Regions from separate parts of the Homo sapiens genome. Here all the other regions are linked to region 2. The links come from fine-mapping of genetic effects on gene expression. A gene starts in region 2. Each other region holds a variant in brackets. All regions are shown on one strand. Distances are from middle to middle. Region 1 has its middle 14 kb from the start of TM4SF1. Region 2 holds the start of HPS3 (HPS3 biogenesis of lysosomal organelles complex 2 subunit 1). Region 3 overlaps TM4SF4 (transmembrane 4 L six family member 4). Region 4 overlaps HPS3 (HPS3 biogenesis of lysosomal organelles complex 2 subunit 1).

The links. PIP is the estimated chance that this variant, and not a neighbour inherited with it, causes the effect.
Region 1: its variant is the best candidate, but not a certain one, in a credible set for the expression of HPS3 in regulatory T cells (Bossini-Castillo 2019, PIP 0.64).
Region 3: its variant is the best candidate, but not a certain one, in a credible set for the expression of HPS3 in whole blood (TOPMed, PIP 0.51).
Region 4: its variant is the best candidate, but not a certain one, in a credible set for the expression of HPS3 in testis (GTEx, PIP 0.90).

Annotation. Positions count from the first base shown.
Region 1 is chr3:149,359,313-149,367,286 of GRCh38, forward strand. No RefSeq gene overlaps it. Among named protein-coding and RNA genes, the nearest start is that of TM4SF1, 14 kb to the right of the region's middle. The variant A/C (reference allele first, on the strand shown) is at 4,578.
Region 2 is chr3:149,127,079-149,132,643 of GRCh38, forward strand. HPS3 (HPS3 biogenesis of lysosomal organelles complex 2 subunit 1) reads left to right here and starts at 2,560. Exons shown (of 17, transcript NM_032383.5): 1 at 2,560-2,862. The coding sequence starts at 2,646. RefSeq lists enhancers at 2,561-2,820, 2,602-3,101.
Region 3 is chr3:149,487,185-149,495,158 of GRCh38, forward strand. It overlaps TM4SF4 (transmembrane 4 L six family member 4), which reads left to right. Exons shown (of 5, transcript NM_004617.4): 3 at 435-571. It also overlaps the pseudogene EEF1A1P45. Among named protein-coding and RNA genes, the nearest start is that of TM4SF4, 16 kb to the left of the region's middle. RefSeq lists silencers at 501-550, 2,178-2,472, 7,111-7,260. The variant G/A (reference allele first, on the strand shown) is at 4,566.
Region 4 is chr3:149,152,250-149,157,249 of GRCh38, forward strand. HPS3 (HPS3 biogenesis of lysosomal organelles complex 2 subunit 1) reads left to right here. Exons shown (of 17, transcript NM_032383.5): 7 at 1,245-1,399; 8 at 2,858-2,966. Among named protein-coding and RNA genes, the nearest start is that of HPS3, 25 kb to the left of the region's middle. The variant A/T (reference allele first, on the strand shown) is at 2,346.

The DNA.
Region 1 (7,974 bases), 230 kb after region 2:
AATGACTTGCTGGGATTGCATCAAACTAAAAAGCTTCTGCACAGCAAAGGAAACAATTGACAAAATGAGAAGGCAACCTATGAAATGGGAGAAAATATTTGCAAATCATATATCTGATAAGTGGTTAATGTCCACAATATATAGGGAACTTAATAGCAACAAACAAACAAACAAACAAACAAACCCAAATAGACATTTTTCCAAAGAAGACAAACAAGTGGCCAACAGGTTTATGAAAAGGTGCTCAGCATCACTAATCATCAGGAAAATGCAAATCAAGACCACAATGCCATATCACCTCACACCTGTTAGGATGACTATTATGAAAAAGACAAGAGATAACAAACATTGTCAAGGGTGTGGAGAAAAGGGAACCCTTGCGCACTGTTGGTGGGAATGCCTTTAACATGAGTACAGCCATTATAGAAAACAGTATGAAGCTTCCTCAAAAAAATAAAACTAGAACTAATATATAATCTAGCAATCTCAATTCTGGGTTTAATACATTCAAAGGAAATGAAATCAGTACCTTGATGAGATATCTATACTTCCATGTTAATTTCAGTATTAAGTGTCCATTGACAGATGAATAAAGAAAATATATATGTGAAATATTTAAGTCATAAAAAAATAAGTAAATTCTTCAACTTTCAACAACATGGGTGAACTTGCAGGACATTGTGCTAAGTGAAATAAGCCAGATATAGAAAGAAAAAAATACTGCAGGATCTCACTTATATGTAAAATCTTAAGAAGTTGAACTTATAGAAGCAGAGGATAGAATGATGGTTGTCAGGGGTCTGATGGTGGGGAAAATCAGGAGATGTTGGCAAAAGATACAGACTTTCTGATATAAGATAAGTAAATTCTGAGGATTTAATGTACAGCATGGTGCTTATAGTTTATAATACTGTATTGTATACTTGAAATTTGCTAAGAGGGTAGATTGTAAGTGTTCTCACTGCACGCATACACACACACACACACACACACAGAAATGGTAACTATGCGGAGTGATGGATGTGTTAACTTAATTGTGGTAATCAATTCACAATGTATATGTATATCAAATCATCACATTCTACATCTTGAATATATAAAATTTTTATTTATTCAGTTATACTTCAATAAAGCTGGGAAGAAGAATCCCAAAGTCCTGTGAGGAAGGGGAAAATGGGGCAAGAACTAAGGAGGCAATTGTATAATAGAACTACAGTTCTAATTTTTTGTGGCCAAAGTAATCATATCTGACACATAACTTTATAGTTTATGATGAATTTTCATATGGGATCTAATTGAACCATCCCAATCTTGGTATTCAGGTAGAGATAATATTATAATCTCTATTTTACAGATTAGGAAACTGAGGCTCAGAGAGAAAAAGTGACTTGTCCAAGATGAGCAACCACGACCCAAACAAAAGATTCTTGAGTGAAGCCCAGCACCCTGTTTCTTCAGTTATTCAAATCATATGGTTGCTCAGCTACTTAAAGCTACTTTCTATGTACTTCACAGTTGTTATTTAATTCCCTGTGACATTAAGAACACAGTTGTCATTTAATTCTCTGTGACATTAAAGAGAGACTAATTTCCAAAGAAAAAAAATTAATATTCACAAAGCCAAATGGGAGAAAAAAATGCCTACTTCTGGTCTATGGGAACTGCTTAGTTTGCTGTACCTTCAAACCTGTTTCTGAGTGTTGCCAATGGAAGAGTGGAAGATGGGGAAACATGGAAAGGGTGGTGGTTAAGGAGGGCCCAGGGAGCCTCTGCAGCCCTCCTTATTCTTTTTCTCTGTACCTGAGCCCAGTTCTCCCACCTGGCATGGCTCTACAACCATGAAACCCTGATGCCCTCACATGCATAAGAAGCCCTGACAAAGTGGATGTGGATATTTCTCTCACTCTGCAAAATGAGACTCACGATGACCTGCAATGTGATGCTTCTTTGGGCCAAAAAAAAAAAAAAAAAAAAAAAAAACACAAAAAACCACCCAATTGCTTTCAGGTTGCCTGACTCACAGGGCACCTTGATGCTCTGGCCAGGGACACTGAAGACTGAATCACCTAGCTTGCCTTTGCAGAAACTATTTACTAATATGTCATTTCATTTCTGTCTTTTTCCAACCTTAAGCTTTATGTGCCCCTCATCCACAGCATGTCCTTGCCGCCCATGCCTCTACTCCCATGCATAAAAGGAGGCGTAGGCAAATGTACATGGAAGTCTCTTTTCAACCTCTGCAGGGGATTGTAGGTGAAATATACTATTGCCCACACTTATGTACAAGGATACCCTATGATAAGCATTACTGGGATTAAGAAATATTGAGCGGTATTTCTATCTCTGAAATTCTATTGTCTCTCCCACTTAGAGAAGACTATTACAAGTCAGCTACGATAGGACTTTTTTTCTCCAAAGTTGTGACATTGGAAATCAGGACTCCCCTTACAAACCCAGGTAGCTGATTTGTTTAAAGGACACATAGTATTTTCCTAGAGAATTGGAGCAAGAACAACAGGGTAGAAGCCCTGCAGACCTGTTTGAGTGCAGAAGACACGGACAAAGCATATCCGTGTTCCCATCCACTGAACAGGCAGCAGCTAATAATGTAATGAATTCTCTTCTGTCATCCTAAGCTTTTGGTTGTCGTTGAAGTACTCTTCTGAACTCCACCTATTATCATTTAATGAGTGTTTGCTATGTTTCCAGCTCTGTGCTTTTTTTTACATCTGCTATTCATTCTCTTTCCAAAGCTGTAGCCCCACGGTCTCATAGTTAAATAATTCAGATGTTTTGAGTTAAATAGGTTTTTACAACAAGACTTTTCAGAGCTAGTGGAAGGTCCATGTGTGTAGTGAATCTTTGGGAAGATTTATTTGGTATATATTATTTCCCAGATTTTTTCAAGGGCGTCTCATAAGACATGTTTAGTTCAGAAGATGCTACTGAGGTCTCAGAGACTGCTATCTCTTTCTCTGTTATGAGTTGAGTTGTGTCTTCTTAAAAAAGACATGTTGAGGTCCATACACTTTAGAGTGCGACCTTTTTTGGAAATACAGGCTTCACAGAGGTAATCAAGTTAAAACGAAGTCATTAGAGTGAGCCTTAATCCAACATGACTGGTGTCCTTATAAAAAGGAAGAAATTTGGACAGAGAGGCAGACATGAGGGATGACAATGTGAGGAGACACAGGGAGAAGATGACCATCTACAAGCCAAGGAATGTCTGACGTTTCCCGGAGCTAGGAGAGAGGTCTGTAACTGATCCTTTCCCAGTGCCTTCAGAGGGAGCATGAGCCTGCTGACACGATTTCAGACTTCTGGCCTCCAGAAACATGAGACAATATATTTCTGTTTTTCTAAGCTACCTACCAGTTTGTCGGACTTTGTTTTGGCAGCCCTAGGAAACTCATATGTTCTTCTAGCTGGGTGGTGGGTAAATCAGGCTCAGTTTCTCCCCTCTTTACTTCTTTATTTTAAAAAATATATTGGAAAACTTCTATCATAAGTATAAAATTAACAAAAATTTATCTCCTTTTCCATTGTAATAGAAGTATCCATTTTTATCTAGGCAAATAGCCAGCTACATTAGAAACAAACTTTTCCCGCAAAAGACCACAGAATAAATATTTCAGGCTTTGTGTGACATGTAGTCTCTGTCAACTGTTCAGCTCTGCCATTATAGGGGAAAAGCAACCATACACAACATGTAAACAAAACAGTGTTGCTGTATTCCCATAAAATTCCATTGACAAAGCAGGCAGCAGACCAGATTTGTCCCGTGGGCCATAGTTTGCTGACCCCGGATTACTGAGCACCTACTATATGCCAGGCACTATTTTAGAAGTTGGCAATGCAATAGTGAGCAACACAGTCAAGGTCTCTGCTCTCACAGAGCCTGGAAAATCTTGTTCACAGCTGTGTCCTCAGCACCTTGTGCAGTGCATGACATGCAATGAACAATCCATAAATACTGAATCAGTGAGTGACTGGAAGTCCCCCAGGCAGGAAGAGATGAGCCAAACCTTGAGAGTGCTAGGCTAGAGGAAAACTCTGGGAACCTTGGGATGCTAACTAACACAAAACAAAAGAAGCTCCACTAGCAGTTTGATTCCTTGACAACAAACAAACAAACAAACAAACAAAAATCAATGTGTTCTCATACGCACCGAATGCACCAAAAGACATGTACAAAAATGACCACAGCAGCATATTTCCTAAGATCCCTGAAAACAGCTAAGATCCCTGAAAGCAACTCAAATGTCCATCAATAGAATGATGGATATTATTCTACCCCATTGAAACATTTCACACACAAGTTTTGTGTTTTATTTTTATTTATTTATTTATTTATTTTTCATGTCAATGAATTCAAAGGAATCACACATAGGTTTTTGTATAGAAACAGCACTACATTTCTGTAAGAGGTGCTTTTTCAAGATATCTATGTTCACTAGTTGTAGCCTACAACTAGAAGGCTCTGTGTCAAACATTCCACTTGCTACTAATTCCTACCATACCCCTCTTTGTTCCCAGAACATTGTACCCCACATGTACCCCAGAACTTAAAAGTATAA[A/C]AAAAAAATAAAAAATAAAAAATAAAAAAAATAATGAAAAAACTTAAAAAAGAAGAAACGAAAACAAAAAGAAAAGGAATGGTGAGAGGAGATAACTTTGCTTTGTACACAGTCTTAGTGGGAAAGTTTCTAGTTCCTCACCTTTAAGTATTACGTTAGCTACTTTTTCATAGATGTTCTTCATCAAGTTGAGGAAGTTCTCCTCTATTTCCAGCTTGCTGGGAGTTTTTATCATTAATGAGTGTTGAATTTTGTCAAATACTTTTTCTATATCTAGTGATATAATCCTGTGATTTTTCCTCTATACCCTGTTGGTGTGATGGATTACATTACTCAATTTTCAAATGTTGCACCAGACTTTGATACCTGAAATAAATACTATTTGGTCATGGTGTTAAAAAAAAAAAAAAAAAAGAAACCCAAAGACAGGAAGCCTTCAGTAAAGATTATGATACGATTGTTTAAGACTGGGGGAAACAGCAAGGCAGGACTTTGAGTTGGTGGTTCAAAGGCTCTTGAGATATAAACTGTTGATGTTTTCTATTGAGGAGATGGTGGATCTTTCAGAGATCCCAATAATAAATAATAAAGTTATTTGCTTAGGAAAGAGTCTCCTGGAATAGTAAAACTGTGCTCAAGAAGAGTATGGAATAATAAAATCATGAGAATGTTAACAGTAAGCTGTGGAGCAGTTTATGGTTTTGATTCTCCTTGCCCAAGTTATGTGAGTCTTGGTGGAGGAGGGAGTAGATGGTTTGGGTTCTTAATATTTGTGGGATTCTTTCATGTATTGAATATATGACAGTTTATTATATGGATATCATCTATCATCTGAGACAGTAGTGGCCATTTCAATTGGCCCTTAGTCTTGCACACGAATCAAGGATATCTGTACACATGTAACAAAGAGGGGTGTGGTGAGGATTAGTAGCTAGTGTAATGCTTGACACAGAGCTTTCTAGTTGCAGGCTGCAATGACTGATCACAGGTACTTGAAATGGCACCTCTTGGGAAACTATTATTGCTCCTATACGAAAATCTGTGTGTGAAATGTTCATAAGAGATCTACTGTCTCTGTCTCAAGGAGTTAGCTACATTAGCTGAGATTACATCCAGAATTGGGGGGCAGGGAGGGAGGAGAGATTGTTTTAATTCTATTTATTTATTTATTTAAGACAGATTCTCGCTCTGTTACCCAGGCTGGACTGCAGTGGTGCCATCTTGGCTCACTATAACCTCGACCTCCTGGGTACAAGCGATTCTCCTGTTTCAGCCTTCCCAGTAGCTGAGATTATAGACATGCACCACCATGCCCAGCTAATTTTTGTATTTTTAGTTGAGATAGGGTTTCGCTATGTTGGCCAGGCTTGTCTTGAACTCCTGACTTCAGGTGATCCGCCTGTCTTGGCCTCCCGAAGTGCTGGGATTACAGGCCTGAGCCACAGCGCCTGGCCTTGATTCTCATTATTTACAAGATTCATCCACGTTGTCTCATGCAGCAGTAGTTTGTTCTTTTTAATTGCTGTATATTAGGAAAGTGTGTGTGTGTGTGTGTTTGTGTGTGTGTGTGTGTGTGTGAGAAAGAGAGAGAGAGAAAGAGAGAAAAAGAGAGAGAGAGAAATGAGAGCAAATAATTGATTCTAGGAAGTAACATGAAATCTAGCTCCAGAAAAACCTAGTAGACTTATTTAACTACAATAATTAAAATATGTGTCTAAATTTGCCAGGACTTGCATACACAAACTATTTAATGTTAAGAGAAGGAGGGCCAGGTAGGGTGGCTCACACCTGTAATCCCAGCACGTTGGGAGGCTGAGGTGGGAGGATCACGACGTCAGGAGTTCGAAACCAGCCTGGCCAACATGGTGAAACCCTGTCTCTACTAAAAATACAAAAATTAGCCAGGCATGGTGGCATAAGCCTGTAATCCCAGCCACTTGGGAGGCTGAGACAGGAGACTCGCTTGAACTCAGGAGGCAGAGGTTGCAGTGAGCAGAGAAAATTAAAATAAGGAAAATCCAAGCTGTAGTACACAAAGCCCTGATAAAAAGCCAATGTTCAAAGTAAAGGTATGCCATTTCGTTTTAAAATACAGAAAACAGATACATGGTTGATATTTGTAAAAATCTTACTTGGTGGCTTGTCTAAGAAGAAACTGTGCACTTAACATTTCCCAAACATGCAATTGAAATTATAGGCTCCCCATTATATTTTTAGCCTATGGTTACTGCCAGCCTCACCTGGCCCATCCCTTCACCTAATTGCAGGCATAATTATTCCCCTGTATTTACTGTAGGATGACTCCTCTGTCCAAGCACAAGAACAATGGTTTTCTTACATACCTGGGGAGTTTCCCTTAAAGACTGCGGGCTCCTCCCTGAATTATTTTAGGACTGAATCTTTCTTCTCATCTCATTTTTGTTTTATTTCTAAAAGTAATATGTGCTTATGGTAGAAATTTCAGAAAGTATAGATAAGCGAAATGAATCAAGACAAAAATCACATTGAATCTGATTGAAATTCCTTTTCAGTAATATATTTAAAGGGTATTTATAATATACATATACCTAGTAGAGAAAGACATAGAACCCTTCTTTTCTATATTTTCGAAACTTTCTCTTTCATGTAATGTTGTGCGGTTCATACATTTACCCTGATTTAACAGCCACTGACTACATTTATCAAACCAATTCCTTGTTATCAGAGATTTAGGCTCTTGCCATTTTTCCTGGTGTTACAAACAATACTCCCATAATTATTACTGGAAACTGAACTATTGTGAACATCCTTGATGATTTTCTTAAAATAAATTTCTACAAGTAAAAATACTTGGCTAAAGGATGTGTAGGCTTTATATATTGTAGACACAGATCACCAAATGGCTTTTCTGAAAAGTTGCATCAAATCCCATACCTGTTCTCACCATGGGTAAGCATCAGAGAAAACAATGAAAAAGATCTCACACACATACAAGAAACTCATACTGTGGTAAAGGTAGCATTCTATCAATTGTCTGAGATTTCAGTGCATGAGATTTCCTTTATGTAGGAATGTATTTGTAAATTTGGTCACTATGGTAAATTGACACTCAGAGGCCACGTGTACTATTCAAGTGATTCAGATTCTACAGTAATTTTTATTGTTTTAATGTTGTCAGGTAAGAATGAGCTGTTTTAGTACAACCCCTGAGGGAGTTTCCAGCCAAATTGAAAGGCCTAGAATATTACAAACCAGGAGCGTAGGCTATAAACAGAACTTAAGGAGGGTGTAAGGTAATTTGTGTAAGCTATTTCCTTCAGGTGATGACAATGTCTACTATTAAAAGATTCACAAACAAGGGGAAATGTTGAGTCACTCAAACTTAGGCTCTAGGATAGGGATGACTAAGGCTCTCAGG
Region 2 (5,565 bases):
CAACACATTCTCTAAGACCAATGCAGATATCCCGAGGTACCTCACAGATGGGATAGGAAATCAGTGCTCCAGAGATCCAGAATCCTTCTTTTCTAGGCTGGTTGAGTAGAGCTCTTTGTCCATGTTGTTGCAGAACCATTTTTGTAGCCATCCCCAGTGGTGTTGTCACCTAGAAGAAACTTGGGGGAGCTTTTTACCCACATAGCACCCTCAATCTCCCCAGCAAATACAGCTTAAAGAAGTTCTAGGGCCAGGTGCAGTGACTCATGCCTGTAATCCTAGCACTTTGGGAGGCTGAGGTGAGAGTATCGCTTGAGTCCAGGAGTTCAAGATCAGCCTGGGCAATATAGTGAGACCCTATCTCTACAAAAATTTTAAAAATTAGCCAGGCATGGTGGTATGTGCCTATAGTTCCTGCTAATCTGGAGGCTGGGATGGGAGGATTGCTCGAGCTCAGGTGGTCAAGGGTACAGTGAGCCATGATCACACTGCTGCACTCCAGCCTGGGTGACAGAGCGAAACCCCATCTCTTTAAATAAGAAAGAAAAGAAAGAAAGAGAGAGAAAGGAGGGAAGGAAGGAAGAAAGTTCTCAAGACAACCCTTTTCAACAGAGTGCTACCCTAAGTGCATGTGCTATGGGCTAAATTGTGTCTTCCCCCCAAATTCATATGTTGAATCTGTAACCTCCAATACCTCAGAATGTGACTGTATATAGAGATAGGGCCTTTAAGAAATAATTAAGGTTAAATAAGATCATAAGGGTGGGTCCTAATCTAATATGGCTGGTATCTTTATAAGACAAGGGAAGGACACCAGGGATGCAGGCACACAGAGGAAAGACCATAGGAACACATAATAAAAAGGTAGTCATCTTCAAGCCAAGGAGAAGGGGCTTCAGGAGAAACCATACCTGCTGACATCTTATCTTGGACTTCTAGCCTCCAGACCTGTGAAAATGAAATATCTATTGTGTAAGCCACCCAGTCTGTGGTGTTTTGTTATGGCAGCCCTTGCAAACAAATGCAACCTCCCGCAAGGAATTGATGGTGTGCCATTGCTGCCCCTGCATTCGTAACAGGAATACAAGTGGGCAGCTCCTGCTCACAGCTCCTGACAAACGTGGAAACCAGACACATGCCCCACCTTCCCTTGGGTAGCATGTCTCTTCCCAAAGAATCTTAGATGAGTCAGGTGCAGTGACTACAGCAAGGAAGAAGACACTATCTCTAGGAAGGAATGGGGTTCCAGGTTTTGAGCAAATCTCACTTCTTTCTCCAAAACAGACATTCTTTTTATGCAGGTGAAATTACACTAAAGTTAATATCAGTCTTCATTAGGAGAAAATTGAATTAGGATAATTAAGTCTTGAAGAAGAAAATTAAGCCAAAAAGAATAATATGGCAGATACTTGTGGAAAGGAATCTTTTTTACTATTGATTTTGATATTTGCTCTTAAGTTTTGTATCTAGAACAAATAACTTGTGGACTATTAGTCTGGTTGTTTTCCATAGGAGCCTTCTGTGATTTTTTGCAGCCCTAGTTCCTGACCTGAGCTACCTCCATGTTTACTTCTCTAACTCACTGAGTTTGACGAACCTGTTGTTTCCCATTACTTAGAGGTACTTTATTCATCTGAAGGGCCTAGGAAAGGGAGGCAAGTTTAACTTCAATCCAATTGCATCTAATTTACAAATTCTGAACTGGAAACTGACTGAAGAAAATGTTGCACTTTCATTTATGTCCCTGTGTGCCTAAATAAAACAGCATCCCTCAATCCATGCTAACACATATATTTTCTAGGTGAACTGGACAAAGTTATACTACTTGTTTTATCTAAATCTGATTTTTTTAGAAAAGGGAAAGTGTTGCGATCGTGAACTCCACGTTGAGATGTCAGGAATAGATAATTTACTGCATAGTTTTAGGAGCACTGGACTGAAAGCCAGGGGATTTCCCTCCTAGTTCTTCTATCCTCTGGGGCTCAAACTAGTCTTTTGTCAAATGCCTACAAGATGAAGTCCATGGATTCTTTCTTTCAACAAATATCTTTTTGCCAAGCACGTTCAAGGCTTTGCTCTTTCCAGCTGAACTATTCTAGAATTTCCATTATTTTAAAGCAACTCTTCAGAGTGTTTAGCCCCGAGTTGCACCCCATTTCAGTTTTTGCAACCCCATCCTCCAGAAGCTCAGGGACTACTGAAGAGACATGAATAACGCTCCTCAAAGTAAGTACAAAATGTTACAAGATAGATGATGAATTGTCAGAACGTACTCAAAAGCCAAAACATACCGCCTGGCCCAAAGCAGTAAAAGACGAAAGGCAGGGACCCAGCGGTCCCCGCACCCACCGGCCACTGAGCATAGAGCAGTGGCAAGCTCGCGCGGCGGAGTGGGAGGCGCAGAGACCGAAAGCACTGCAGCGCCAGAGCGCGGGCTGACCAGGCTGGCGTGACCGCTTTCCCGACGCCTGCCACGCCCCGCGGCGGCCTCTTTAAGTAGCGGAGCCGCGGGCGGGGCCGGCTGGCGTTCACGTGACCCGGCGTCATTGGCTCGCTCGCGGAAGTAGTCCTACATTCGCGGTCAGCGCGGGGTCTCCGGGCGCCCTGCAGGGCGGGCAGGCTGTGCCATCCCGCCGGACGTCGGGATGGTGCAGCTGTACAACCTGCACCCGTTCGGGTCGCAGCAGGTGGTGCCCTGCAAGCTGGAGCCGGACCGGTTCTGTGGCGGGGGGCGTGACGCGCTTTTCGTGGCGGCGGGCTGCAAGGTGGAGGCGTTCGCGGTGGCCGGCCAGGAGCTGTGCCAGCCGCGGTGCGCCTTCTCCACGCTGGGCCGGGTGTTGCGCCTGGCCTACAGCGAGGCTGGTGAGTAATCTAGAGAGCCAGGGGCCGCCTGGGGTCCAGCTTGAGGCCTCCTAGCTAGCGGACCGAACGTCTGGGCTGTAGCTCTAGCTAGGGATGGGACTTCTTGCTTCCCGGAATTTGCCGGATGGTCTCCCTGGGTCTGGCCGCTGATTGCTTGAAGTCGCATTGAGCTATGCGGTTGTCGCGGCAAGCATAGGTATGAGCTTGCTTCTGTCGGGGCGGAGACGCTGACATCTCTTCGTCTTGGTTTTCTGCAGAAAGGCCTCTGGCTGGATTCCACTCATCTCGGATACTTAAGCAAACAACAACAAAAAACTCTTTAGTGCATCAGATTTCAAAGACTTACCAAAAAAACAAGTAGGAATAAGGAGACTAGTACTGTATCCCGGAACCTCCAAGTACTCCCAGCTTTAACAATTATTCCAACTCTTGGCAGTTCTTTCACATCTGTACCTCCATCTACTTCCGGTCGGTTTTTGAAAGCTCACATTATGTGTTGATTTTTAAATGTGTGTAAGTAGAACTCAGACTGCCCCCCTCTCTTCTCTTAAACATCTGTGGCCGGGCGCAGTGGCTCACGCCTGTAATCCCAACACTTTGGGAGGCTGAGGCAGGCGGATCACGATGTTAGGAGTTCGAGACCAGCCTGGTCAATTTATTGAAACCCCGTCTGTACTAAAAATACAAAAATTAGCCGGACGTGGTGGTGGGCGCCTGTAGTCTCAGCTACTTGGGAGGCTGAGGCAGGAGAATCGCTTGAACCGGGGAGGCGGAGATTGCCCCATTGCACTCCAGTTTAGGCGACAGAGTGAGACTCCGTCCCAAAACAAACAAAAACAAACAGTTGTAAGAGCAGCCGTTACTCTTTCACACCAGAAATGTGAAGCAATACCAAGGAAATACTGTGTGGGTGAATCCTATTTTAGAAAAATCCAACATTTAAAACTAGATCCCTTTTAGATTACAGAAGAATTTACCATATAATTCCTTTAATACACTTACCTTCGATTCATACTTTACAAGATGGGTGTAAAGTTCAGTATTTACGTTGCAAAAGCTGGTGGCTATGCTATTAATGAAGTGGAGAACTTGAACCTGGAAGATTGGAGATCTCTCTCTAATCCCTACCCCGCAGCTGGTTCGGTGTGAGTTTATAGAAACCTTGGGGTCTGAGTTTATGTTAAAAAAAAAAAAAAAAAACAAAAAGTTGAATAAATAGATCAGTGATATCCAGACCCTGGGATTTCGTGGCTCAATTAAAAACTGTGGGGTTACCATACATAGTATCTGACTGCTTATTTTGTCAAGTAAAGACATATACAGGCATACCTTGTTTTTTTTGCATTTCACTTTGTTGTACTTTGCCGATACTGCGTGTTTTTTTCTCCCCAATTGAAAGTTTGTGGCAACTCTGTGTGGAGCAAATCTACCAGTTCCATTTTTCACACTGCATGTGCTCACTACATGTCTCTTGAGTCACATTTTGATAGTTCTTGGCAATATTTCAAACTTTATCATAATTATTGTATCTATTACGGTGATCAGCAATCTTTGATGTTACTATTGTAGTAGTTTTGGGGTGCCATGAACTGTGCCCATGTGAGATGGTGAACTTAATTGATATGTGTTGTGTATGTTCTGATTACTGCTCTGATCGTCTCTGCCTGCTCAGGCTGCCCTAGGCCCTGAGACACAACAATATTGAAATCAGGCCAATTAATAACCCTACAATGTCTTCTAAATGTTCAAGTGACACTTGGACGTCTCTCACTTTAAATCAAAAGCTAGAAATGATTAAGCTTAGTGAGGAAGGCAGGCGTGTCAGAAGCTGAGATAGGCTGCACGGTAGGCCTCTTGGACCAAACACTTAGCCAAGTTGTGACTGCAAAGGAAAAGTTCTTGAAATTAAGTGTTACTCCAGTGAACACAAATGATTAGAAAGCCTTATTGCTGATAGGAAAAAAACTTTGCTCTAGGTAGAAGATCAAGCCAGCCAAAATACTCCCTTAAGCCCAGGCTTAATACAGAGCAAGGCCCTCTGTTCAACTCTGTGAATGCTGAGAGAGGTGAGGAAGCAGCAGAATAAAAGTTTAAAGCTAGCAGAGTTCAGCTCATGAGGTTTAAGGGAAGAAGCTGTCTCCATAATATAAAAGTGCAAGGTGAAACAGCAAGTGATGATGTAGAATCTGCAGCAAGTTATCCAGAAGTCCAGAAGATATAGCTAAGATGAGTTTATGGAGGCAGCTGTGCTAAACAACAGATTTTTTCAGTGTAGACAAAACAGTCTTAAATTGGAAGAAGATGCCATCTAGGACTTTCTTGGCTAGAGAGGAGAAGATAATGCCTGGCTTCAAAGAACAGGCTGACTCTTGTTAGGGGGTGATGCAGCTGGTGACTAAATTGAGGCCAGTTCTCATTTACCATTCTGAAAATCATAGGGCCCTTTTAAAAATTATGCTAAATCTACTCTGCCTGTGCTTTAGAATGAAAAAAGCCTGGGTGACAGCACAGCTGTTACAACATTGTTTACTGAATATTTTAAGCCCACTGTTTTGATCTACTGCTCAGAAAACAATATTCTTTTCAAAAGATTACTGCACATTGACAATGCACCTAGTCCCTCAAGACCTCTGATGGAGATGTAGAAGGAGATTGATGTTGTTTTTATGCCTGCTAACACAGCATCCATTCCGCAGCCCATGG
Region 3 (7,974 bases), 360 kb after region 2:
GTGAAGGTTGCAGTGAGCTGAGATCACACCATTGCACTCCAGACTGAGCGACAAGGGTGAAACTCCGTCTCAAAAAAAAAGATTACGCCAATCCTAAGGTTCTTTGATTCTATAATAGATTGGCTTTATATATCAGCCCTGGGGAGGAGAGTTTATCTTTAACAAGGTTAAAAGGCCATGGCTCAAAGGTAACAGAACCAACACCTCTGTCATCAATGAAAAGGTGAAAAAGAAATGGAAATGGGAGTGAAGAAGGGAAAAGAAGACACCAAAATTCATTCTAGAAGACCCCACAGGCCCCATCTACTATAAAGACTAGCTCCTACTCCATAACTTCTTGTAGTCACCATGTTCAACAGCAGGTGGATTAGGTTTGTTGAGTGTATCCTCTGGACCACCTGGAGAATGTGACTGTCTCTCTTCCTCTCTTTCAGATGTTCACCTCCACGATATTTGCTGTGGTTGGATTCTTGGGAGCTGGATACTCGTTTATCATCTCAGCCATTTCAATCAACAAGGGTCCTAAATGCCTCATGGCCAATAGTACATGGGGCTACCCCTTCCACGACGGGTAAGGCCACACCCTGCAATGCCCACCTGTCACCACAAGGGGCATGGGCAGATAAATTGCCCAAGGGGAGACTGCACACAATGCCATGTCTTCATCCTTATGCAAGCCTCAGGCTCGGTGCTCCTTTGAGGCAGAGATGGAGTTGTGGAATACAGCAAAGTTGCATAGGCTCTCACCTCTAATTGCTCCTTTGACAGACCCCAGGAGAAATAACTAAAAGAGGACGGATGCCTCCTTTGGCCTGAGGGAAGGAAGAGATTTGTTGTGTCATCACTTGCACCCAAATATTTATTAGCAGCAACACAAGGCAACTAATAATATTAATAAACAGAGTAATAGTTTTCATTACAAATCTCATAATAGAAAACAAGAATAATTAACCACTAACTGGGCCCAAGGGCTTTCATTAATACCCCAAATTGCCTATAATTAAACAATCATTTAAGTGCAAATGTACAGAAAATGACATTGAAATCATTGTAGGTTTCTCATGTTAATGTTAATAGACTCATTAAAATAACATTTCATGTTTTCATGGTACTTTGTAGATTGTAAAGACCTTTATCCCACAAATTTATAATTTAATCTTCATAGTAACCTCAAGAGGTAATTACTCTGTGCCAAGGCAGGCTTAATAAGCTTAACTAGCTTCAAAGTCACATTGTTAGTTGAGGACAGTGCCAGGGCTCAAACTCAGGACTTCTGACTTCAAGTCTTAGCCTTTCATAGTACACATCCTCCTGTCCTGCACTGACCAGGACGGCACTGTTCAGTCCAGTAGCCAGCAGCCATATGGAGCTATTTAAACTCAAATTCATTTATAGAAATAAAGTTAAAAATTCAGTTCCTTAATCACACTAGCCATATTTCAAGTACCCAGTAGCCATATAGGGTTTGTAGCTACTGTATTGAATAGCACAGATCTAGAACATTTCCATCATGGTAAATGGATCTGTTAGGCAAAGCTGCACTAGACTTTAACCTCCAAGGGGGCTTGGAGCATTTTTGTTTTGTTCACCGTCTCAGCCCCTCTGCCTGACAGTGACTGGCACATCCCACAGAGTCAGGAAATATAACTATAGGGTCTTTCTGCACATGAAGAATGGATTTGTGCCTAAAAAAAATCTGTAGAACACCAATATATTAACTCAAACCTCTACGTATTCATTTACTGTGAGATCCTAAAGAATCTTAAGAACAGGCTTCAGGCTGGGGAAGTGAAGGGGCCTAGTTCTCTGTGATACATGGTCTTGGTTTGTTCACAGACGTCCCACATGAAATATCCCCATCTTTCTCATAGTTAAGCAATACAAGGTCTCTAACATCCTCATACCTTGTGCAGCGGTTTCCAAATACATTTAGTTTACTGTGTGAAAAGCCCTCTTATCATGCAGAGAGGACTGTTGGGGCTACACTACCATGGGGTTGGCTTGCTTGAGCATCAAACTCAGATCCCAGCAGGCTGAGCCCCCACAACCCGCCCCCATTGAGGCTCTTCCCCTGACAGCTCACTCTCTCCACCTAGGGGTGTGTGTGTGAAGCTACAGATTATGTCTTTCTTCAAGGAGCCCTCTATTAATTCCAGCAACATCAGTGCCACAGTAAACATATTTTTCTATTTTTTCTGTTATGTGAATAATACTACCCTAGGAATTTAAAGTCAATTGAAATAAATCTATGTCCAAAACAAAGGAGGGAGAAAGAAAACAAAACAGATGCCAAAAAACACTCCAAAGCCATACAATGGCCTCACATGTTCTGACTGCAGGAACTAACACCCTCCCCTCACACACGCACGCCCTACTTGGGATGGGATGGGATCAATGCCCAAGATCAGGAGTGACAGCTGGCCTGTGGGTCACCACACGAAATGCCAAACTGAGGGAAGGACAGGAAACGACTTTTGGAAGTTCTTCATATTAGTACTTCTGGAGAAGCAAGTTTTCATTCTCATTGCAGCCATTTATTGTGTATTGCTCTGTAATAGATGCTTTCAAATATGTTATTTTATCTACCCCTCACAACAGCAACTAACCAGCATCAAGAACAGGTACCAGATTATAAAGATTTGATAATAAAAACAGAATAGGGTAAACCTTGCAGGCAAGCGGGAACATTTCAGAATTCTCTATTTATCTCCTGTTCACTGTACAGCTTTGATAATTACCTGAAGGGAGAATGATTTGAACACCGAGACATCTGTACAGCTGCTTCAAACTATAATGTGATAAAAAATTACTGTACAGGGATGTATTACAAAACCGTATATATCACAGTTTCCAGATGATTTATAGGCTATTTAAGAATGATTTTGACTACTTATGTTTTAATTTAATCCCTTGTAAGATGTAAGACTGCTCTTTGTGCAAGGTATAAAATATGCCATGATGGTTACAGGAAGGGCATTCAGGGGATGGGCCCAGGTTTCACTGCACCCTCTTTGCCATCTGGCAAACCTTCAGCAGCATTCTGTTGTCTCCTCAAATCCTGTTTCCTCCCTTCTGAGACAAGAGCTCACATTCCTTTTTGATGTTATCTACTACTGCCAGCTCCAAATCTTCCCTCTAACTGCAGAAGTTCACCTTGAATTTCTTATGGCAATAATTGAAACTTCTATTGCTTGGTGTTTTCAGTTAACAAAGTGCTGTCACCTATATTGTTTCATTTGATCCTCACAAAAAGTTTATGAGATTGTTTAACTCTCCTTCAGAGGCAGGACAGCCAAGGCCCAGAGAGGACAAGTGGCTTGCCAAGAGGAATACAGTTTCTTAGTGGCAGAAGCTCAAATCCAAGTTTTCTCACTCCAAGTCACAGTGCTTTTTCTAGAACACAGTTTATATTGACTCATATTGTCTGCTTTTTGCCTAGATTCCCTGTTGGCAAAACTCATGGGATTCTACCTCCTACTCCTTTTACTATACAGTACTATACTGGTATCTGATAGTTAAAAAGGGTGTGTGGACTCTTCTTATCCACATAAGCATATAGTAACTGTTGTTATAGCTGCAAACCTAACACTCATACACAGCTGCTCAGAGAGTAGAAAGGATCAGTCACTTGTATGAGCCAAAAACAAGAAAACTCAAGACAGTTGTCATTTGTCCCTTATTACCAAAGGGCAGCCATGGTAGCAACTGCTTCTTCTTCTTGTTCTTGTTCTTCTTCCTCTTCCCTCCCCTCTTTTTCTTCTTTTCCTTCTCTTTTTTCTTTCTCTCCTCTTCCTCCTTTTCCTTCTTTTTCTTCCCAGTGAGTAAGTGCTAAGTGTTTTTATGTGCATTATCTCACCTAATCTTCCTCATAAATCTGAGAAGAATTTTTATCCCTGAAGGAGAAAAATGAAGCTCAAGAAGGTTAATTTTCCCAGGGCTCCATGGCTAGTAATTAGTAAAAGGATTTTTTTTTTTAATTAGCTGGGAGTGTTGGCTCATGCCTGTAATCTCAGCACTTTGGGATGCTGAGGTGGAAGGATTGCTTGAGCCCAGGAGTTCAAGACCAGCTTGGGCAACATAGGGAGAACTCCCTGCTCCAGCGCCCCTCTACAAAAAAAAAAAATTAAAAAATTAGCTGGGCATGGTTGTGCATGCCTGCAGTCCCAGCTACTCCAGGTGCCTGATGTGGGAGGATCGTTTGGGCCCAGGAGGTCAAGGCTGCAGTAAGCCATAATCATGCCACTGCATTCTAGCCTGGGCAACAGAGCCAGACCCTGTCTCAAACAAAAAACAAAACAAAACAAAACAAAACAAAAATATATATATATACACACACACACATTTATATATCTACATATGCACATATCTACTTTTATATATGTGTACATATATATACACACACACATATATATATGTAGTCAGTATCTTATTTTGTGCTGAAGCCTATCTCAAACATGGAACAAAAAACGAATAGACATGGTTCCTTTCCTATCAGCATATGGGTTAGGGTGAACACATGGAACAGATCCTCATAATGCAGAAAGTGTGAGATGGAGAAGGAGTGC[G/A]GGGGGAAACTTCTTCGAGAAGGTGACATGGGCTGATTTTGGAGGATGAGCAGAAGTTTGCCTTCCAGTGAGGAAGGAGAAGCACATTTCAGGCATGAAAAGGCTGACATGCTCAGGGAACCTCAGAGCACTGTGTGGCAGAAGCTCAGTGTGAATGAGGAGAGATTTGCAGAAGGGGCCGCCACACGATGTGGTGAGACTGAGAGGCAGCCAGACCTTCAGGACATCAGGGCACAGCAGGGGACTTCAAGCAAGACATGGCATGGCTACTTTGGACTTTTAGAGGCATGATGGTTCTAGTGATGTGGAAAGTGAATAGGAGGATTCAGGAACTAAAGAGAGATAAAAGCTGGCATCATAATCCAGATAAGATGATGAACATCACCCAGGCAGCAGAATTGGGGCTCAAAAAAGACAAATTTCAGAGAATGTTTGAGATGGAGTCATCAGGTTTAGGTGTGAGGAGAAAAGAGGAAGGTAATCAAGGTGGACTCTGAGATTTCGAACTTAGTGCACAAAATCCAGGGCTCTGCAATGCCATAGCATTTAGCACTGTTTTCCTCAGAAATGTTTTTTGGTGATAATATTAAGGGAGGGAGCAAAAGTAGTTAACTCATTCTGTCCTGAGAACCATATTAAAGAACACCCTAGAAGGAAAAAGAAACCTGGGCATTTTGAAATATACCCTCTTGGTTTCCTTTGAAGTAGAACCTCCTCCCATCCAAGGTCTTCCTCCCTGAGACAATTGGCCATCCCTCCCTTGACCCTGAGCTGCTGAAAGGAAAGCAGCCTGCACAGGGTGTGGGGACAGCCATAGGAGGGGAAGCAGAGGATGAGCCAGGAGTGGTCAGTAGTCAGGGAGGGACGGGGCTATGCATGGCACTCCTGGGCCAGGCTGCAACTCTTTACCTCCTTAGAAAGAGTCAAGGGCAAGGAGAGCACCCTCACATCTGTGGTTCAGACACCGAGACACTGAACTGAACACAGTTAAATGTTCTGCCTTGACATTCAGCTAAGACCATCTGGATTTGCACTTCAGAAATTACTTATTAGCAAAGAACATCATAAGCTGCTTGTAAACATATTCCCAAGAGCTGAAAGCCACCTTAATAGGATGAGATTGGATTTGCACCATGTAATCTTAGCTTTCATGAACCAGAAACAGTTCACAAATGTTAGGAGCCAGTTTTGCCCTTGGCTGACTTAGGGTCTAGCCACACCTCTGCCATATACCATTTATCTCTCAGGCTTCATCTGTGAAATGAATGGGAGTAACAGCAACATCCACCTCACAGGTTCAGGTAAGAGTAAATAACACAAGGTACATAAAGCACTCAGCACAGTTCCTACCACATACTTGCTTGATTCAGCCTTATTATTCATTTTTATGAATATAAAGTATTATGGTAAATGGAATTTATTTTTATGCATTAAAACTTTAAAAATGTTATGCTTTTATAATGATTCTGTGACTTAATTTCAACCAGGCATAAATAAGGCTCAAAAAAAACCTCTTTATTGTGATATAAGTAACCCTTGATTCACATACTATTATAGATGTATAAATCAAATGTCATAAATAAATCATTTCAAATATGCTAAGGAAATAACTACTCCAACAAAGGGCATTTGTGTAATGGGTCAGAGCACTGGATTTGGAGTCAGACAGACCTAAGTTCAAACCCAGGCACTTCCATTTACTAGCCTCACCTTCTTAATCTGTAAAATGGGTATATGTTCATTCATTCAGTGAGTGTTTACTGAAGGTTACTCTATGCCAAGCACTGTTCAAATAAAGTAGCATCTCCTTGGAGCATTAGGAAAGATGATGGAAAGCAGCTAGCCCAGAGCCTGGCACTAGAGGACCCAGGAAATGAGAGCTGCTGCTATTTATGAAGCACTGCCTGTGCTGGAACTGGGGACAGAGACAGTGGCACATGGTCTTTGCCCTTGGAAGTTTATCGTCCTGAAGAGAGGACAAACAAATGGACAGGTGATGGCAGCGCAGGGTCCAGGGGCTCTGTACAACAGGGGCGGAAACACAGAGCGCTGGGGAGCACAGAAGGAAACCAAACCCAGGCTGAGGGCAGAAGCATTGTGGAGCTTCTCCCAGAGGAGGTGGCATCTGAATTCACCAGACAGAGCGCGCCAGCAAAGCATTCGTATTCAGGCCCCCTGGTTTCTGTCTTCAGCTGAGAAGAGAGTTCTGTGAAATTCGTGCCTTTCTGCTCCCACTTTGATGGGATTACTACAGCTCAGGTGGAAATACCTGCATAATAATTGGATGCTTTAAAATGTCAGTTAAGTGCATCTAAACTGCTTCTGCTCTCCTTGCTTCACTGCCAGGTCCATGAAAAACTGAGGACCCCTCTCTCCCTGGGTTTGGGGAGTTGGACACAGTGATCAAACTGAACGTGAACACAGGCTTTTTTGCCAGACTCTCAAAGACTGCCAGAACCAGAGAGTTTGAAGGGAGAGAAGAAGGGCCTGAGTGTGGCTATGTGGTGGTTTGTGAGGGGTGAGGCTGCAGCAGGAGTGGAACTCATGATTTCTCCAGGCAACCAAATTCAATCCTTGCTTCTACGTTCGCCGTAAACGTTTCACAAATCCTACCACCAGGAGGTGCTGTCATGCCACTGCTGTGCAGGCTCTCCAAAGAGGCCCGAAACTCAGGATTGCCAATTCTTTCACCTCAGGATCTTTTCTTCATAAAGTGTGCCTGGAAAATATTGCATCTTTATAACCTTTTATAATTACCAAGTTTTAAAATTGTAAAGATAGAAAGGACTAAATGGAAAAATGCAGAACAGAAAGATGGGTGTTTCATGTTGGAAAAAAAAAGGCATTTTCACAACGGGTTTGCCACCAAAACACAGGTGTCATGAAAACCACCCCTAAATCAAAACCAAAATGGGAAAGAAAAGGATTCATATCAATATCGTCGTTATTGGACACGTAGATTCAGGTAAGTCCACTGCTACTTGCCAACTGATCGACAAACATGATATAAATCACCAAAGAACCATCGATGAATTTGAGAAGGAGGCTGCTAAGAAGGGAAAGAGCTCTTTCAGGTATGCTTGGGTCTTGAATAAATGGTAAGATGAGTGTGAGTGTGACACATCACCCTGTGGAAGTTTGAGACCAGCAAGTACTGCATGAGTCATTGATGCTCAGGACAGAGACTTTATCAGAAACATGATTACAGGCACATCTCAGTCTGACTGTGCTATCCTGATTGTTGCTGTTGGTGTTGGTGAATCTGAAGCCGATATCTCCATGGGCAGACCCATGAACATGCCCTTCGTGCTTACACACTGGGGATGAAACAACCAATTGTTGGTGTTAACAAAATGGATTCCACAGAGCCCCTCTACAGCCAGAAGAGACATGAGAAAATCATTAAGAA
Region 4 (5,000 bases), 25 kb after region 2:
CTCCTTGCGTTTTCAAACCTCAGAAAGACATAGGCTTATATAGGGGTGATGGTGTAATTTAAAGTACCTAATAGATTGAAGTAGGATCAATGTACCTTTGGAAAAAAAATAATTCCATGTATTTTCAGAGTCTTATAAAAGGCAGAATGAAGGAACAAGGAAGAGACAAAGGGGAGGGATAAGGAGAGGTGGGCATCTGGTGGAGGTATGCTGCCCTTGAGGCCAGTGGAGGTAGGAGGGGGAAGGCATAATCACACCTCACGGTTCCTCCTTTCCTGGGACTCCACCAGTTCTGAAGCCCTAGGTGCCAGTTAAACAAGCACACGTTTAGCCCACCTGCTGACTCAGGCTTTGGAGCTGTGATGTCTGAAAAAAGTTTCACAACCTCAAGAGTCTGGTTGAAAGTGCTTGTGGTCTGTCTCCTTTTCCTCTGAGATTCTGACTCCTCAGCACTAACCAAGCCACCTTAACTATTTTTACATGGAGGTAACAATGAAGATGACCTCAGAATCAAAACAGCATGCATGGACAAGAAGGCAGGGTCCTGGCAGCATCATTTTGTGAGCTCCCAGAATAGAGCTCTTCCATTAGTTTTCTTATTCATTCTACTTGAATTAATGGTCCTTTACAAGAGCAAAAGGCTGGCTCCTCTAGTTTACCTGACATGTCCCAGCCTGTCCGCCATTCCAGGCACTATTCGTACCTAACAGACTAACAGTCAGGGGCCATCGGAACATACAAGCATTTCTTTCACACACACATCCGCAAAGAAACCATTTTATGTACTCTACAAGCAGTAGAATGTCCTTTCATAGTGTCTGGTTTTTCCTAAAAACCCCATTTGGGCGTACCCCCAACCATCCTGCTAGTTGTGGGGGTTTCCCTGGGTGGCAGAGTACCAGCTTCATCTCCTGGAGGTATCTGTGGAGCCACTCTGTGGGGCACACACACAAGTTCCTGCAGCTGTGGGACCCTCTTTCCGTATTTATTCAATCAATCAATAACTGAGTTTGTTGGCTGAGTAGCTCTATGGAATACACTATTGGTTACATAGGTTTAGATAACCTCTTCTGTTAAGAATAGGAATCTGGGTTGGTCTTTTGTTTGTTTGTTTGTTTTTTGGTGGTGGTGGGTATGGGATGGTGGCAGCAGAAGAGATTTGATCAAATAAACTGACTGATTTTTGAAGATTGAAGTGCATGTACCTTTATTTCTTGCTTAAATATGTGATTTTCCTTTACTAGGCTTGCCCACCTGTCAGTATGGATGTCTGTGCTTTAAGAATACAGCTTTTCATAGGCTTGAAAGCCATCTGTCACTTTAAAAACCACATCATACTTTTGACTAAAGCAGAACCTGAAGCCATTCCAGAGAGAAGACAGTCACCCAAGAGGCTTCTGTAAGCATCCCCTTGCCCCAGGCATTCCTGCCAGTTTCTGGAATGAGTTGTAACTGGTATATTTTGTGTTTATCTTTTTTCAAATCATAACTTGGAATGATCAAATGGCTTTTTTATGGTGGTCTTTTTCCAGAGAAAGAAAAGAAGGTTCTAACAATCTCTGTAATACACTTTATAACTGACCTGGAAACTTTTAGGAGAAAATGGATTATAAAATAGTTTCAGTAAAAATCAAAGGTGTTTTAGATTAGTTAAAGGCCATGCTTTTCTGTGTAATTAATGAGAAAGACTGAGCCTATAATGCTAATTGAAACTACAGGACTTTTTACTGTCTTTCTTCTTTGACCCTTTCAGTTGTTACATTTTTATCTAAAATTATTTTCTGATATTATGAAAGAAATTAATAATGTATGTCTTACCTTAAAGCACATTTATGATCTATAGATATGTGCTCATGTATCTGAAAATAAAGTTGTATTTTGATAACATTCATCTCTTGTTATTTATTAGGTTTCTGCTTTCCCATTGTTTAGAATAGAATGCTTAATTCCAGACTAGTTATGCTTCTATTTGATGTTTTCCTACTTAGTGGTAGAGAATGCAATCTAATTTCTCTAAGGAAAATTTAATCAAGAAAGAAATCTCTTCAGGGAGTGAAGCATATAGTGTATTTCATATCAAACATGGGTTATTTTTAACATAGATTTTTACTTTTTCAAATTGTTAGTGGCTGTGCTTTGTTGCATCAACAGGAATCAGAGGTTGACTTTGGTAACTGATCACTTTGAGTGTACACAGAGTGGTCTGGGGCTGACTGATCCTAAAAGCTTTCTGGGGAGAGGAAAAGCAGTTTGTAGTCTTGCACATTTGACATTCTAATAGTATAATTTTTTAAATGATGTTTTAAAAATTCTAATTCATTTGAAAATTCATTTGATAAACAATT[A/T]TAAAAGATTGTACACTAAAGAAAATGTATCACATAGTGAAAGCAAGAGATAAGATAGTGCTTTAAGCAGACTTAACAGTTTTATGTGTCTTCATCATATTCTCAGCAGCCATGATGTTGCTTCTGCTTAGATTTGTGGCTCAGGGCATGCTAGACTCATGAAAGTCAAATGCAGAAAAGAGCCTGGGTATAGGGACTTCCGCAGTCAAGGATCTTTTCCTCTTGATGGGACTTGCCTGTTCTTTGAACTTACTGCTCATTTGAGAATACTTGCAGAGTGAATTGGAAGCAGTTGGTTTATCATTACATGAAAATTACAGAATATTAAATGCAGTTAGCCTATGTAGTATTGTGAACTAATATTCCATAGAAATAGAGTGTACAGTTAATCACTGAGGAAAATAGTAAATGAAAATGATTTTATAGTTATTTTATATCCAATATTTACCATTTACAACTACCATTTATTAATAATGTCATTTTAAAATTCTTGTCCTTTGTTTTGCTTTTAGTTCGAGAAAAGATACCAGTGTTAAAATCAAAATACCTCCTGTAGCTGAGGCTGGGTGGAATTTGTATATTGTGAATACGATCTCACCAGTGCAGCTGTACAAAGAGATGGTACTCTTTTCAAACTTCTGATTCTTGTTTGTAGATATTTAGAGTGAAATTAATGATCAGAAATTGATTCTAATTATCATACATTCAGGATGCCACAGCCATTCAGCTTCCTGGCTCTGTCTGACAGTGGAATGTATATCTCTCTCTGCCTCCTCATTGTTACAGCTTCTGACATCCGAGGAACCAGTAGAAATTCCCTTCACTAGCATAAGACTCCCTTATTCATACCCACTCTCCTAAGAAGATCGATTGGCCAATCTGAACATAGTCTTTGACCTTAATTTGAACTCTAGCAAAGATAGCTAAGAAATGGAGCAAATAAATAAATAAATAAATAAATCTAGGATTATGTATCCCTGTCCCACTCTTCTTATTTAGAAATGTTAGCACATTGTCCCAGGGCACCACAGCTACTGCAGCATTGTCCTGGGGGGAGGGACCCAGAGGGAGCATCCTTACTGATCTAAGAGTGACAGCTTCCTACTCATCCCTGGCAATTATTTTAACTCTTTATTTTGAAACAATTTCAAACTTACAGAAAAGTTGCAAGAATAAGTATATTCTTCCCAACCCTTTGGGAGGCTGAGGCAGGTGAGTTGCTTGAGGCCAGGAGTTCGAGACTAGCCTGGGTAACATAGTGAGATCCCATCTGTACAAAAAATTAAAAAATTAGCCAGTTGTGGTGGCACATACCTGTAGTCCTAGCTACTTTGGAAGCTAAGATGGGAAGATCACTTGAGCCCAGGAGTTCAAGGCCACAATGAGCTATGGTCGTACCACTGCACTCCAGCTTGGGTGACACAGCAAGACCCTGACTCTTTTGACTCTTTTTTAAAAAAGAAGAATATTCTATATATTCCCATTCCCCACACAGATTTCTCCACAGTCAACATTTTACCCTATTTGCTTCTCTCTCTCTTTTATGCACTCTGTGCTTTCTGTGCACACAGATATACATACACTGTTTTCTGATTCTTCTTCGGGAGGTAAACTGCATACATCAGTCTTTTGCCCCTAAGTACTTCAGCGTATATTTTCTAAGAATAAGGATACTCTCTTGCATACCAGAATACAGTAGTATGCTTTAATAAATTTAACATTGACACAGTGCTTTATCTGGTTTATGGTTCATAGTCTAATTTTGTCAACTGACCCAATGGCTTGATAGCATTTCCCCTTCTCCAGTTCAAGACCCAGTCTAGGATCAGGTAGTGTGTTTAACTATGATGTCTCTTTAGCCTCCTTTGAAGCTGGAATATTTCTATAGCCTTTCATTATGTTTTATGACATGAGCATTTTTGAAAAATATAATTTTCCCCTCTACTTTTTTTTTGAGAGTATTCCTTATTTAGGGTTTGCTTTTTTTTTTTTAATGGTTAGATTCAGATTATGCATTTTCAGCCAGAATATTGCATAGGTGATTTTTGTGTTAAGGGTATCACATCTGGAGGCACATGCTGTTCATCTACCCCTCTTTGGTGATGTTAATTTTTGGTCATCAGGTCAAGGTGTTGCCTGATTTGTCCCTGCCAATAATTTAATGCCAATTATTATATTAGCTGTGCCCTGTCTTTTCAGTCTTGCTTAATTGAAAGTCTTCGTTTAGGTGATTTGACCGCTAGAGTCTGAATATATTGATTGAGTCAGATTAGCTAGTGATAATTTTTATGAGCCCTCTATGAGTTATGGAAATAGATGTAGTAGAGCCTAAACTTACCAATCAAAACTAAAATAAGGGAAGAATACTCAGTCTAAATTTGAGAAAGAATTAAATCACAATTTTTTGAAGTTTATTTCAAATATTAACATGTTCACTAGTCTTACTGAGATCAAATTGTTGCTAAGTTTACAGTATTATTAGTATTACAGTATTATTTGGACCTCTGTAATGATTAGAGCTGTTTAACAAGGTATTATTTATAATCATGTATGTATTAAACTGGCTCATAGATGGTGGGAAAAAAGCCCTACAGCTAAGCCCTTGTCAGAATGGTGAATAACCATTTTGTTTACTTTTAGGGTTTAATATGTCCA